Linked DNA regions of Homo sapiens. The protein of the gene in region 2 binds, or shares a complex with, the protein of the main gene of each other region. Each region holds a gene or a part of one and is shown on either strand. Other genes may lie near its edges.

Region 1 (3,600 bases), on a different chromosome or scaffold from region 2:
TTTCAAGGAACAGCCAGTAACCAATGTTTATCTACGTAAGTAAGGAAGGGAGAACAGTAGGATGAGAGTTCAGAGAAGAGGGTAGGGGATATCAAATAATTTAAGGCCATGTAGGATTTTTGAGAAGAATTTTGCTTTTATGTCAAGTGGAATGAGGGCCACTGATGATCTGGGAGTAGAGTGACTATGATCCGACATGAAGTATACTCCATTTTTTAACTATGTGAACTTGTGCCAACGTTTTAACCTCTAAATCTGTTTCGTCATTTGTAAAACGGTAAAAAGTATTTTACCTCATAAGGTTGTCGTGATGATTAAATAAGATGATACGATAAGTGCAAAAGATTTAGCTTGTACTTAACATAGAGTAGGCACATTTTCTCCCCTTCCCTGTCTTTCACTTTTCTCTTCTGCCCCTTCCACCTGGCGCTAGGAGGGGGAGACTGGAATAAACCTTGCAGATTACAGCCCGTGTAAGAGTAGAAAGGAAAGGATGACAGTTGATGTAAAGCCTTGGTTAACAGACATAATAGCTGGGATTTAAATTCAGCTTTATTGGTGGTTTATGATGTGGACTAGAGGAATGGAACTGAAAGTCTCGGAGGAGGGGCGATCCTATCAGGTACAGGCGCTGCTTTTCCAGCCCTCAATCCTCAAGACTCTCCCAAGATACATTTCTAGGTAGTTTATCAACACAGACTCCGGGTATGCTAGCATGTTTAATTGCCCCATTGTTTAATGTCTTAACTCCACGAACTTTAACTGATTAATCTGTCTTCTAATTAATGTTTGAATGACTCTCCTCAGGTCTAAACTACCAAGGCCATCTCTACTTAAAAACAGTTGTCTTTTGTTTGTGATTTCAGGGGCCCTGGGTATAAGCGAAGTCCCTGTTTAGAGACCTTGTGATGGGTTCAAAATATCAAGAAAGATAGCAAAATATCACAAGCCTCCTGACCCGAGAAGATTAGCGTTGAAAGGGTCTGTCGTGTTTGTTTGGGCCTGGGGCTAAATTCCCAGCCCAAGTGCTGAGGCTGATAATAATCGGGGCGGCGATCAGACAGCCCCGGTGTGGGAAATCGTCCGCCCGGTCTCCCTAAGTCCCCGAAGTCGCCTCCCACTTTTGGTGACTGCTTGTTTATTTACATGCAGTCAATGATAGTAAATGGATGCGCGCCAGTATAGGCCGACCCTGAGGGTGGCGGGGTGCTCTTCGCAGCTTCTCTGTGGAGACCGGTCAGCGGGGCGGCGTGGCCGCTCGCGGCGTCTCCCTGGTGGCATCCGCACAGCCCGCCGCGGTCCGGTCCCGCTCCGGGTCAGAATTGGCGGCTGCGGGGACAGCCTTGCGGCTAGGCAGGGGGCGGGCCGCCGCGTGGGTCCGGCAGTCCCTCCTCCCGCCAAGGCGCCGCCCAGACCCGCTCTCCAGCCGGCCCGGCTCGCCACCCTAGACCGCCCCAGCCACCCCTTCCTCCGCCGGCCCGGCCCCCGCTCCTCCCCCGCCGGCCCGGCCCGGCCCCCTCCTTCTCCCCGCCGGCGCTCGCTGCCTCCCCCTCTTCCCTCTTCCCACACCGCCCTCAGCCGCTCCCTCTCGTACGCCCGTCTGAAGAAGAATCGAGCGCGGAACGCATCGATAGCTCTGCCCTCTGCGGCCGCCCGGCCCCGAACTCATCGGTGTGCTCGGAGCTCGATTTTCCTAGGCGGCGGCCGCGGCGGCGGAGGCAGCAGCGGCGGCGGCAGTGGCGGCGGCGAAGGTGGCGGCGGCTCGGCCAGTACTCCCGGCCCCCGCCATTTCGGACTGGGAGCGAGCGCGGCGCAGGCACTGAAGGCGGCGGCGGGGCCAGAGGCTCAGCGGCTCCCAGGTGCGGGAGAGAGGTACGGAGCGGACCACCCCTCCTGGGCCCCTGCCCGGGTCCCGACCCTCTTTGCCGGCGCCGGGCGGGGCCGGCGGCGAGTGAATGAATTAGGGGTCCCCGGAGGGGCGGGTGGGGGGCGCGGGCGCGGGGTCGGGGCGGGCTGGGTGAGAGGGGTCTGCAGGGGGGAGGCGCGCGGACGCGGCGGCGCGGGGAGTGAGGAATGGGCGGTGCGGGGCTGAGGAGGGTGAGGCTGGAGGCGGTCGCCGCTGGTGCTGCTTCCTGGACGGGGAACCCCTTCCTTCCTCCTCCCCGAGAGCCGCGGCTGGAGGCTTCTGGGGAGAAACTCGGGCCGGGCCGGCTGCCCCTCGGAGCGGTGGGGTGCGGTGGAGGTTACTCCCGCGGCGCCCCGGCCTCCCCTCCCCCTCTCCCCGCTCCCGCACCTCTTGCCTCCCTTTCCAGCACTCGGCTGCCTCGGTCCAGCCTTCCCTGCTGCATTTGGCATCTCTAGGACGAAGGTATAAACTTCTCCCTCGAGCGCAGGCTGGACGGATAGTGGTCCTTTTCCGTGTGTAGGGGATGTGTGAGTAAGAGGGGAGGTCACGTTTTGGAAGAGCATAGGAAAGTGCTTAGAGACCACTGTTTGAGGTTATTGTGTTTGGAAAAAAATGCATCTGCCTCCGAGTTCCTGAATGCTCCCCTCCCCCATGTATGGGCTGTGACATTGCTGTGGCCACAAAGGAGGAGGTGGAGGTAGAGATGGTGGAAGAACAGGTGGCCAACACCCTACACGTAGAGCCTGTGACCTACAGTGAAAAGGAAAAAGTTAATCCCAGATGGTCTGTTTTGCTTGGTCAAGTTAAACCCGAAGAAAACCCGCAGAGCAGAAGCAAGGCTTTTTCCTTGCTAGTTGAGTGTAGACAGCAATAGCAAAAATAGTACTTGAAGTTTAATTTACCTGTTCTTGTCCTTTCCCCTATTTCTTATGTATTACCCTCATCCCCTCGTCTCTTTTATACTACCCTCATTTTGCAGATGTGTTCTACATCTCAAGAGTTATTACAGTACTCCAAAACAGCACTTACATGATTTTTTAAACTTACAGAGGAATTGTAGCAATCCACCAGCTAACCGCCTGAAATAGACTTAAACATGTGCATCTCCTTTTTTTTTTTTTTTTTGAGACACAGTCTCGCTCTGTTGCCCAGGCTGGAGTGCAATGGCGCGGTATCGGCTCACTGAAACCTCCGCCTCCTGGGTTCAAGCAATTCTCCTGCCTCAGCCTCCCGAGTAGCTGGGACTAGTAGGTGCACGCCACCATGCCCAGCTAATTTTTGTATTTTTAGTAGAGACAGAGTTTCATCATGTTGGTCAGGATGGTCTCCATCTGCTCTGTTGCCCAGGCTGGAGTGCAGTGGCGCCGTCTCGGCTCACTGCAACCTCTGCCTCCTGCATTCAAGCAATTCTCCTGCCTCAGCCTCCCGAATAACTGGGATTACAGGTGTCTGCTGCCATGCCCGGCTAATTTTTTGTATTTTTAGTAGAGACGGGGGTTTCACCATGTTGGTCAGGCTGGTCTAGAACTCCTGACCTCGTGATCTGCCCGCCTCGGCCTCCCACAGTGGCATGTGCATCTTATAGCTGAAGTCTAAGCCTTCTTAAATCTTGAGATCCATCAAAACAGACAGGTTTTCTAATTGTTATACAATGTATATGTTATGTTTATAATAGAAATCATTTTACAAATAAG
Region 2 (3,944 bases):
GCATGTACCACCATGCCTGGCTAATTTTTGTATTTTTTGTAGAGACAGGGTTTCACCATGTTGGCCAGGCTGGTCTCAAACTCCTGACTTCAAGTGATCCACCTTCCTTGGCCTCCCAAAGTGCTGGGATTACAGGTGTGAGCCCCCGCGCCCGGCCTAGAATATAATTAAAAAGAAAATTAATACCTTCAATTGAGAGGCAGTTTCATGAGGTTTGGCAACAGACAATATCTACATTTCCCAACTTAAAAACTGCAAGTCCATCAACATGAGTATTTTTTCCCTTTAAATACTTTTTAACATTTTTATTGTCAAAGTAATTCATATTAATAAAATTCAAACAATAAAATAATATAACATGAAATATAAAAGTTCTGAATCCCAACCACGCACTGTTGCGTATGTAATATATAACAGCTTGGTTATTTTCCTTAGCTCATATGTAGTGTATAATACGTTTTCTGTATAAATGTATAAAAAAGTCTATTATATGTATATATATTATTGAAAAAGGCTGGAGTGCAGTGGCGTGATCTCAGCTCACTGCAACCTCCACCTCCCAGGTTCAAGTGATTCTCTTGCCTCAGCTTCTCGAGTGGCTGGGACTCCAGGCATGTGCCACTATGCCCAGCTAATTTTTGTATTTTCAGTACAGACAGGGTTTTGCCATGTTGGCCAGGCTGGTCTCAAACTCCTAACCCCAAGTGATCCACCCACCTTGGCCTCCCAAAGTGCTGGGATTACAGGCATGAGCCACTGTGCCCGGCCTAAAAATGTATTTTAAGCAACAATGGAATAATAATGTCTTTCAACTTGCTTTTCTCAATTAATATTTCCATGCCTGCTCATGTAAATTCACCTTACTCTCTCTAATATCTCTGTCTGTGTGTGTGTGTGTGTGTGTGTGTGTGTGTGTGTGTGTGTGTGTGTGTGTAGGATAATTTACTTAACTAGCCCTTTTTGATGGTTGTTAGGGTTTTTTTTTCTTTTCTTTTTTTTCCTTCAACTTTTATTTTAAGTTCCAGGGTACATGTGCAGGATGTGCAGGTTTGTCACAAAGGTAAAAGTGTGCCATGGTGGTTTGCTGCACAGATCAACCCCATTACCTGGGTATTAAGCCCGGCATCCAAGCTGTTTTTTTCAATGTGAATTTCAGAGACCAGAAATTGCTCCTCAGTTTGCTTGCTAAGGAAAATGGTTGCTATGCAGCTCTTGGTAACACTGCTTTTGTGGAAAGATAAAGGCTTTTTGTTCTGAAATCCCGTGGGTGCAGAGTCTCAACTCTGCCATTGTTGTTGCGTGAGCTGTGTGGGAGAGCCTTGGTCACTGTGTGGGCTGGGGTTCTCCTGAACTTTGCCATGGAGGAGGCAGTTCTCTTCTCAGGCACTCTGCTGGCCCTGACCTTGATCCTGGAACAGAGAACTACCTGACAAGGCAGTGCAGTAGCATTCCTGGAATCAATGTAGGTTCTTTTACAATAGGGGTTGGCAAACTTTTCCTGTAAATGGACAGATAGTAAACATTTTATTATTTTATTTATTTTTTGAGATAGAGTCTTGCTCTGTTGCCCAGGCTGGAGTGCAATGGCGTGATCTCAGCTCACTGCAACCTCCGCCTCTGGGTTCAAGCGATTCTCCCTGCCTCAGCCTCCTGAGTAGCTGGGACTACGGGAGCCTGCCAACAGGCGTGGCTAATTTTTGTATTTTTAGTAGAGACAGTGTTTCACCAAGTTGGCCAGGCTGATCTCGAACTCCTGACCTCAAGTGATCTGCCTGCCTTGGCCTCCCAAAGTTCTGGGATTACAGGCATGAGCCGCTGCGCCTGGCCATCATAGTAAGCATTTTAGATCTTGCAGGCTATATGGTCTCTGTCACAACTATTCAACCCTGCTGTTGTAGAGAGGAGCCAGGGTAGACACAATGTAAATGTATGAGCCTGGCGATGTTCCACTAAAGCATTATGGACACTGAAATTTGAATTTCATATAATTTTCATGTGTCACAAAATACTATTCCTCCTTTGACTTTTCCCCCAAGCATTAAAAAAAAAAAAGTACAAACCATTCTTAGCTTGCAGGCAGACCTCTTGCAGGCAGAGGTCCAAATTTGGCCCATGAACTGCAGTTTTCATACTTCTAAATTTAGAACATGAGTTTTTGGATTCTTAGTTTTGATTCAGCTGAGATGGGTGACGTGTATAATGATAAGTACTTGTTTTTCTAGGTGGATCTTAGTGGTAGAGGTGAATTATTCATATCTTCATTTCATAGCGCCCTGTCCTTGCTGGTCCCTACAAGACTCCCCTGTCTTCTGTGTTTATTTGTTCCCTTTAATCATCATTTTTTTTTTTTTTGAGACAGTTTCACTGTCACCCAGGCTGGAGGGCAGTGGTGCGATCTTGGCTCACTGCAACCTCCGCCTCCTGGGTTCAAGTGATTCTCCTGCCTCAGCCTCCCAAGTAGCTGGTATTACAGATGTGCACCACCACGCCTGGCTAATTTTTGTATTTTTAGTAGAGACGGGGGGTTTCACCATATTGGCCAGGCTCGTCTCAAACTTCTGACTTCACGTGATCTGCCTGCCTCGGCCTCCCAAAGTGCTGAGATTACAGGTATGAGCCACTGTGCCTGGCCTCCTTTTGTTTTTTTTTTTTTTTTTGAGACAGAGTTTCGCTCTTGTCACCCAGGCTGGAATGCAATGGTGCAATCTCTGCTCACTGCAACCCCCACCACCTCCTGGGTTCAAGCAATTCTCCAGCCTCAGCCTCTCGAGTAGCTGGGATTACTGGCGTACGCCACCACGTCTGGCTAATTTTTTTTATTTTTGGTAGAGGCAGGGCTTCACCATGTTGGCCAGCCTGGTCTTGAACTCCTGACCTCGGGTGATCCGCCCACCTTGGCCTCCCAAAGTGTTGGGATTACAGGCGTGAGCCACTGCATCCGGCCATGTATCTTTAATTTATATAAGTGGCATTTTGTTACAGAGCTCATCCCCATTTTTCCACTTCGCAGTGTCTTTTAAAGATATCCAACTTGCCAAGTGACCATCAAACCCTTGCTCCTAACTAGTGTGTAGGGCTCCATAGGTGAGCCCACTGTCTTTTACTTCATTTTCAAAAAGAAGTTGTCTTGAGTGAGATTATGTGTTGAGCTTGAGCGTAATTATGTGTTGAGCTTGGGAATATGTATCTCTTGCCCTTACAAAGAATAGGCAGATTGGCTGAATGTCAAAAAAAAAAAAAAATTACAGCTTTTTTCCCTTCTAAACTGTAAATAAATATTTAAAATTTATTTATTATTATTATTTTTTGAGATGGAGTCTCACTCTGTCACCCAGGCTGGCGGATCACAAGGTCAGGAGATCGCGACCATCATGGCTAACATGGTGAAACCCCATCTCTACTAAAAATACAAAAAAATAGCCGGATGTGGTGGCAGGCGCCTGTAGTCCCAGCTACTTGGGAGGCTGAGGTGGGAGAATGACATGAACCCGGGAAGCGGAGCTTGCAGTGAGCCGAGATCGTGCCACTGTACTCCAGCCTGGGTGACAGAGAGAGACTCTGCCTCAAAAAAAAAAAAAAAAATTTTTTTTTTTGTTTAATTTTTATTTATTTTTAAAATTTAGTTTCTTAAAAAAAATTAAGTTATAACTTACCCTTTCAGTGTTTACTTCTGTGAGTCTTAATAAACACATGTAATTGCAGAATGGTTGCCACATTCAGGATGTAGAAGAGTAGGCCGGGCGTGGTGGCTCACGCCTGTAATCCCAGAACTTTGGGAGGCTGAGACGGGTGGATCACCTGAGGTTGGGAGTTCAAGACCAGCCTGGCCAACATGGTGAAACCCCATCTCTACTAAAAATACAAAAAATTAGCCAGGCGTGGTGGCATACGCCTGTAGTCCCAGCTGCTTGGGAGGCTGAGGCAGGAGAATCGCTTGAACCCGG

The links. The genes of interacting proteins can lie anywhere in the genome.
Region 1: the proteins of PLAAT3 (region 2) and KRAS are in contact, whole or in part, in a crystal structure (PDB 7C41), measured with the Homo sapiens proteins. Residues at the interface, in NP_001121675.1 of Homo sapiens: Leu65, Tyr66, Asp67, Val68, Ala69, Gly70, Ser71, Asp72, Lys73, Tyr74; in NP_001356715.1 of Homo sapiens: Ala11, Gly13, Lys16, Ser17, Tyr32, Asp33, Pro34, Thr35, Ile36, Thr58, Ala59, Gly60, Gln61, Asn85, Asn86, Lys88, Asp92, Tyr96, Lys117.

What each region holds. Positions count from the first base shown.
Region 1 is NC_000012.12:25,249,023-25,252,622, reverse strand, and holds the start of KRAS (GTPase KRas), read left to right. Parts: upstream 1-1,693; 5' UTR 1,694-1,872; intron 1,873-3,600. UniProt on the Homo sapiens protein: Ras proteins bind GDP/GTP and possess intrinsic GTPase activity. Plays an important role in the regulation of cell proliferation.
Region 2 is NC_000011.10:63,600,694-63,604,637, reverse strand, and holds part of PLAAT3 (phospholipase A and acyltransferase 3), read left to right. Parts: intron 1-3,944. UniProt on the Homo sapiens protein: Exhibits both phospholipase A1/2 and acyltransferase activities. Shows phospholipase A1 (PLA1) and A2 (PLA2) activity, catalyzing the calcium-independent release of fatty acids from the sn-1 or sn-2 position of glycerophospholipids.